Linked DNA regions of Homo sapiens. The protein of the gene in region 2 purifies or fractionates together with the protein of the main gene of each other region. This does not show direct contact. Each region holds a gene or a part of one and is shown on either strand. Other genes may lie near its edges. The genes, in order: DRC8 and TEX36.

Region 1 (3,990 bases), on a different chromosome or scaffold from region 2:
CAGTGTTTCATGAATGAATGAACAGCGACAGTCTCTTGGGTAGCAGCCGCCTCTTTTGGGGGCAAGACTACATGCCTGAGGAAGGCTCACAGCAACTCTAAATGTTTACATCTATGTAGATACACACATATAGTGGTGAAGCCATCTTCAAATAGAGACCCGTGTGTGTGTGTGTGTGTGTGTGTGTGTGTGTGTCTTGTTATAACAGAATATCTAAGTTTGGAAAATTGTTCACTTCCCTTTACTTTATCTTCCCCTTTGCTTGTAAGTTGCCATATAGTTGCCATATAAGATGCCAAGATCGGAGAGAATTGCAAGGAGGAGGCAGTGGCCATGCCATATATTTTTCCATTGTGACTGCTTGTGCTTCATTCTGCTCTTTCAGGAGCTGTACATTTGCACACCATAACATTTCTCAGTATTCTTACTCAGTATTCAGGACAATGCTCCCATGACAGATATGCGGAGTGGGTGAGAATTCTAAAGACAAAGGGAGAATTGCCACTACCTTACACTATCAACTTCCACTCAACCTTCTTTTCTCTAGTTCCAATGATCTCAACTCCTTTAGCTACTCCATAAATGGTGACATGCTGGATCAGCAAATATAAATGTTTACACTAAGTTATTATTATCCCAAATGATATTTGTAATTGGCACTCATAAAAAAATAAATTAGTAATATTTATTTTGATAAATCACCTTCCACACTCAGATTGATGAAGCATTTGTTATTGTTTAAAAAAGAAGCCTTCATTACACTGCTACTCGTTTTCGAGTGGTTCGTTCTGCCCCCTCTTAAGATCTTTACATGCCAAACCTTGGGTAATTAAGTCATTTTCATTTTGTCAGCTTAATTAATTCGAAGGTGACCTGAGTTTTATTGTAGAAAATAAACAACAATCCATTCTAATGTTAAAATGTTTTAAGAATAGTTTTTAAATAAATAGTAATTTATCATTCTGTAAGGCTAGACATACTAAATTTGGTTTAAAGTGTTACGATCATCTTTAAAAACAAAGTGTCTTAAAATAGTTATGTCACAAGGTATTAAATATCACATATAGGAATCCTAAGATAAGATGTGAAATTAACAAGAACAAGCAATTTCTAAAATTGTTCTTTCAATCAGAAATTATCTTTAGAACATTTAATTTTCATCTATCACCATCATTGTTATATAGTCCTTGTAATTAATTGAATTTGATTCTGGATCAATTGCAGCAGACAACATTTCTTCCATTTCCTCTTGAGAAAAAGGCTCACCTCAGAGAGACAAAAAGGAAAATTTATCATTTAGGATCATCTGATTTTTTTCTCTTTCCACTAGCCAGCTTAATAGCCATGGAGCCCCACAAGCTCCCACAGTGCCACTAGTTACGCTCCCTGGAGCTGTAGAGCCAGGACATCACGACAGTCCAGAGGTTCAAAGACAAGGCTATTGTACACCCTGGTAGATTCTGGACTTCTTTTAGCCTGCAGATGTCATAGATCAAGCAACCTCTAGAACACGTCATTTCAGGCAAAACAGTAGGAAGACATACAGACATCATGAACAAGGTTATTTATTTAGATTAAAACTTTTGAAATTACCAGAGGATTAACTTGAAGCCCCAGTATTTGATGAAAGATGGAAGGAAGATAACTGAGTGGTTAAAGCACAAGTTTGGATCCACATGCTGGCTGCCTCTCACGAGCTCTGAGATCTTGAGCAAGTCACTTCACAGCTCCCCACCTTAGCTTACCTGTCTCTAGAATGGGGGTGATAACGACACCACCTGTCACATAGGGTTGTCATGAGAATGAAACGTGTTATGATTTGAATGGGACTTAGAACAGTACCTGGCATAGAAGCAGCAACATGCAAGTGTTTGTTTAAAAAATTGTTCTGAGATCTTCCCGGCTGCTAAACACTGTCTGATGCAATACACATTCCTGGACACTTAGGGACTTCTATCTTGTAGGAACTTGATTCAGTGTGATTTATTTTATCATATGACATCCAGGGCTGTAGGAATGCATATTCTCAAACTAGTGTGTTTGATACTTTGTGGATATTAGGATGAATGTGCAAGTAGCTTGAATCCATATTGTTATATAGCATAAATGTACTTAAAAACAATTTGTAGAATTCTGAGACTCTCAAAGCAGCAATTCTTAAGCTCCTATTTTACCAAACTAGTCAACTGCTATTACACTTAGCTGATGGGTCTGTTATATTAAATCGTAACTTAGATTTGTATAGATTTACATCTTACATATTACTTCCAAACATATTGGTTCATATATGTGGAAGGTTTGTAATAATACTTGCTGAGTGAATAATTGAAAACATATGTATTCTTATTTGACCATACCTGTCCTATGCTTAGTCCGCTGAGATACTCAATAGTTGATCTTTAAGTACCATGAACTCTCTGTAAACATACCATTTTCGAAATTATCACACAGCACCTCCAAGTAAACCACGTGGTCGCACTGTCTCTGTATACACTGCGGTCTGTTCTGACCTTTCTGTTTGAGTCAGTCTCATTACCATCATACTCGCCATCGAGGGCAAAGCCTTGGTGGTACTTTGGATTCAGCTCTCAGCTTTGTCGCCTACACTCTGTTACTCATCATGACCCATGGATCCTGCCACAGACAGTCCTATTGTACCAATCCCTTCTTCCCATTGCCATTCCCACTGCCAGGTCAGGCCCTTATTTGGGTGCCCTCAAAATGCTGAAATAACCTTCTAAGTGGCCTCCCTAGTCCAACCTCTTTCTTATGCATCTAACAAACCGACCAGCACCAGAAAAACCTTCTCACAATCACTCACACACCATGTGAGTCATCTGCTCAAAAGCCTGTAATACTTCTCCATCGCCCACAGGATGAATTCCAAACTCCTGAGCCTGGGACTCCACAATTTAGTCCCAGTAAGTCTACTGAAGTTAATTTCCTGCTGTTTGCCAACATTACCCTCTGGGCCAGCTAGGCTTATTTTCTCTCTGAAATAGCATGTTCATTCCTACCTCCCCATTTTTGTTCAGACTGTTTTACACATCGATAATGTCTCCCTCTCATTAGCCCCTTCACCTGGTCTTCATCATCTACTCATTCACTCATTCATTCAACAAACATTTGTTGATATCTACCATGTGTGACAGAATTATAATGCACAAGAGTTTACCTTTGCCCTCAACAATTTAACCATATACATTCTACCATCTCAAAAAACCTATTTTCTCTTTAAGTCTTCCCAAACCAAGTTTTCCAGGCTGGGCCAGCCCTAGTTGATCTTCTGATATTTAGCTTTCTATTGTCTTGTATTGTGAATTATTTTATGTTAGTTTTATTTCCCAAATAAGATTGTAATATCCTTGAGAGAGGAAGTAGATTTAAGTATCATTATACCTTACTACACTTACTAAATATTAAACATATAGTAGGCACACAACAGTAGGAAAATCTAACTGTTTGGGCCATTTTGACTAAATTCATGTTGCCTGATATATAACCTAGGATTTACTTTCTTTAGACTAATCCTCAGGATGAAGAAGCTGATGCTTTGAAAGTCGTAACATCCCCATCAGAATTAATCCCGAAGGTAATTTTAACAATGGCGTCAGAGTTCTTGGGTGGCAGCTGTGACGGCCTTGCCATTCTGACCCTCACTCTCTGTATTCCGCCTTAAGGTGGATGAAGCTGGAATGGTCAAACCAGTTGTGCGTGTAGATGCAGTCTTAGTCTTCCCTACTCAAAATCACTTGCGCTTTTCATTCTGCCTCAAGTGATTAGCAACTCTGAGTCATTCAGGACCCAGTCTGTGAACCAGAGAGCTCTAGCTTTGTATGGGAGAAGGCAAGGGGACCAATATGAGGATGGTTTCAGGAGACTGTCCATCAGGCTACTGACCTTCAGTGTAAACAAATTTACACATCAGCCTAGCAGAGAGAATTCCTAAAGGAAATATGTTGGCATATATATATAAGTGTGCAGGTTTTA
Region 2 (3,834 bases):
AAGACCACGGGAAGGGGAGGAACAGAGAATCTCAAGTGATTCTCCACTGGAAATGTAGGATGGTAGAGGGGAGGTAACGTCTAGGAGGGAAAAAGAGGGGGTAGAAGGATGTGAAGCAAGAAAAATGAGGACTGAGGATTATCTAGAATATGTCCTTGCAATCTCCCAACAAAAGCCTGGGAAGGAAACAGGACTGGGCAGAAGAGGGGTAGTCCCAACAAGGGCCTCTGTTGACCCGGCTGGGAGCTCTGGACATTGGGTGGCCACTCAGAGCTGGGGAGAGGGGACCCAGTCTCTGTGCACCAAGCAATGAGGCATTGGATTTATTCCTGAGCTACCCCCAGAAGAAGGCGTGACCCTAGGGAGGCAGCTCTCTTCAGATAACAGACCTGTAGGTGTGGGCAGTGAGGGCCATGCTCCCAGCAGCCAGAGTGATGAGTCTTTCATTCCTGAAGGGGGGTGTGGCTAGCTCTTATGGCAAGAGAAGCTCACCCCAATGTTATTTGAATGGTGCCTCTTAAAAGCCACCCCAACAAAGTGAGCTCTGAAGCAGGACTCTCTAGGAGGAAATGAATGGAAATTAAAAAGACAAGACCCAATTCAATGAAAATTCCCATAAAGGGAGAAGGAAGCATAATGTGGTTGGGTCAGAGGCTGGACATTCAGAGGTCCTGAGTCCACCCCAGGTCTCTCTCCTATCTCCTAGGTGAGCCTGATGAGAGAGACTAAACTTTCTCAAGCCTCGGTTTCCCTATCTGTAAAATGGGAATAATAATACCTACCTGATATGGTAGATTTGATACAAAGAGGAAATGTATACACTCCAATAGTGTGAATAGTTTGCAAATGTTTTTGGCTAAATAGCAATCACATTTTCATTCTCCATTCGTCAATTTATGAACACTTAGGTTGATTCTATGTCTTTGCTATTGTGAATAGTGCTGCAATAAACATGCAAGTGCAGGTATCCCTCAGATATATTGATTTTTTTTAGTAGATACTCAGTAGTAGCATTGCTGGATCAAATGGTAATTTCTCGTTTGAGAGTTTTGAGAAATCTCCATACTATTTTCCATAGTGGCTCTACTAGTTTACATTTCCACCAAAAGTGTATAAGAGTTCCCTTCTCTCCCCATCCTCGCCAACATCTGTTATTTTTTGTCTTTTTAGTAATAGCTATTCTGACTGGGATAAGATGATATCTCATCGTGGTTTTTATTTGCATTCCCCTGATGATTAGTGATGTTTAGCATGTTTTCATATGCCTGTTTCCCATTTATATGTCTCCTTTTTTAAATTTTTTAAATTTTTTATGTGTACATAGTAGCTGTATATATTTATGGGGTACATAAGATATTTTGATACAGGCATACAGTGTGTAATAATCACATCAGGGGAAATGGAGGATCCATCACCTCCAGCATTTATCATTTCTTTGTGTTACAAACAATCCAATTATACTTTTAGTTTAAAATGTACAATAGATTATGATTGACTGTAGTCACCCCCCTGTCATGCTATCAACTACTAGATCTTATTCATCCTAACTATATTTTTGTACCATTTTCCATCCCCATGTCCCTCACCACTACCTTTCCTAGCCTCTGATAACCATCATTCTACTCTCTATGAGTTCAACTGTTTTAATACTCAGCTTCCACAAAGGAGTGAGAACATGTGAAAAGTTTGCCTTTCTATACCTGGCTTATTTTACTTAACATTTCCTCCAGTTCCATTTACATTGTTGCAAATGACAGAATCTCATTCATTTTTATGGCTGAATAGTACTTCATTTTGTATGTGTACCATATTTCTTTATCCATTCATCTATTGATAGACACTTAGGTTGCTTCCAAATCTTGGCTATTGTGAATAGTGCTGCAATAAACATGGGAGTGCAAATATCTCCTCAGTATACTGATTTCCTTTCTTTTGGGTATATACCTAGCAGTGGGATTGCCGAATCACATGGTAGTTCTATTTTTAATTTTTTGAGGAACCTCTATACTATTTTCCATAGTGGCTACTATGGTTTGGCTCTAATATGGTTGTCCCCATGCAAATCATCTTGAATTAGAATCCCCAAATGTCAGAAGAGGCGCCTGGTGGGAGGTGATTGGATCATGGGGGCGGATTTCCCCCTTGCTGTTTTCATGATAGTGAGTGAGTTCTCATGAGATCTGATGGTTTAAAAGTGTGGCACATCCCCCTTTGCTCACTGTCTCTCCTGCTGCCATGTAAGATATGCCTTGCTTCCCTGTCACCTTCTGCCATGATTGTAAGTTTCCTGAGGCCTCCCCAGCCATACAGAACTGTGAATCAATTAAACCTCTTTTCTTTATAAATTACCAGTCTCAGGTAGTCCTTTATAGCAGTGTGAAAACAGACTAATACAGTGGCTGTACTAATTTACATTTCCACCAGCAGTGTACAGGTGTTCTCTTTTCTTGATATCCTCACCAGCATTTGTGATTGCCTGTCTTTAGGATAAAAGCCATTTTAACTGGGGTGAGATGATATCTCATTGTAGCTTGGATTTCCATTTATCTGATGATCAATGATGTTGAGCACCTTTCCATATACCTGTTTGCCGTTTGCATGTCTTCTTTTGAGAAATGTCTATTCATGTCCTTTGCTCACTTTTTAATGGAATTACTTGGTTTTTTGGTTGTTGTTGTTGTTGTTGTTGTTTTACAGTTGAGTTGTTTGAGTTCCCTGTATATTCTGGATATTATTCCCCTGTCAGATGAATGGTTTGCAAATATTTTCTCCCATTCAACAGATTGTCTGTTTACTCTTTTGATTGTTTCCTTTGCTGTGCAGAAGCTTTTTGATTTAATATAGTTCCATTTGTCTATTTTCATTTTTGTTGTTTATGCTTTGGAGATCTTAGTCATAAATTTTTTGTCTAAACCAAGGTTCAGAAGAGTTTTCTCTAGGTTTTCTTCTAGTGTTTTTTACAGTTTCAGATCTTATATTTAAGTCTTCAATTCATTTTGAGTTGATTTTTTTATATGGTGAGATATAGGTGTCCAGTTTCTTTCTTCTGCATGTGGCTATCCAATTCTTTCAGTACCATTTATTGAACAGGGTGCTGCTTCCCCGATATAAGTTCATATTGGCTTTGTCAAAGATCAGTTTTCTGGGTTCTCTATTCTGTTCCATTGGTCTGTGTGTCTAATTTTATACAAATGCCATGCTGTTTTGGTTACTATAGTCTTGTAATAAGTGATGCCTCCAGCTTTGTTCATTTTGCTCAAGATTCCTTTGGTTATTCTGGCTCTTTTTTATTCCATATGAATTTTAAGATTGTTTTTTCTAATTCTGTGAAGAATGACATTGGTATTTTGATAGAGGTTGCATTGAACCTGTAGATTGCTTTAAGCAATATGGTCATTTTAATGATGTATTCCGACGCAGGAGCATGAGATATTTTTCCATTTGTTTGTGTCATCTTTAATTTCTTTCATCAATGTTTTATAGTTTTTCTTATAGAGATATTTTACCTCCTTGGTTAAATTTATTCTTATATATTTTTGTAGCTATTATAAATGAAATTGCCTTCTTGATTTCCTTCTTAGCTAGATCATTGCTGATATATATAAAAGCTACTGCTTTTTGTATGTTGATTTTGTATCCTGCAACTTTACTGAATATATTTATCAGATCTAAGTGGGGTTTTTTTTGGTAGAGTATTTAGGTTTTTCTAGATATAATATCATGTCCTCAGCAAAAAGAGACAGTTTCACTTCTTCTTTTCCAATTTGGATGCTTTTTATTTCTTTCTCTTGACTGATTGCTCTGGCTAGGACTTCTAGTACTATGTTGAATAGG

The links.
Region 1: the proteins of TEX36 (region 2) and DRC8 purify together in Homo sapiens (affinity purification with mass spectrometry; one large-scale study listed by BioGRID and IntAct). This does not show direct contact.

Annotation. Positions count from the first base shown.
Region 1 is NC_000001.11:245,084,521-245,088,510, reverse strand, and holds the end of DRC8 (dynein regulatory complex protein 8), read right to left. Parts: exon of another isoform or gene 1,752-3,990; coding exon of another isoform or gene 1,717-1,751; exon of another isoform or gene 1,267-1,716; coding exon 1,151-1,266; 3' UTR 674-1,150; downstream 1-673. UniProt on the Homo sapiens protein: Component of the nexin-dynein regulatory complex (N-DRC), a key regulator of ciliary/flagellar motility which maintains the alignment and integrity of the distal axoneme and regulates microtubule sliding in motile axonemes.
Region 2 is NC_000010.11:125,662,410-125,666,243, forward strand, and holds part of TEX36 (testis-expressed protein 36), read right to left. Parts: intron 1-3,834.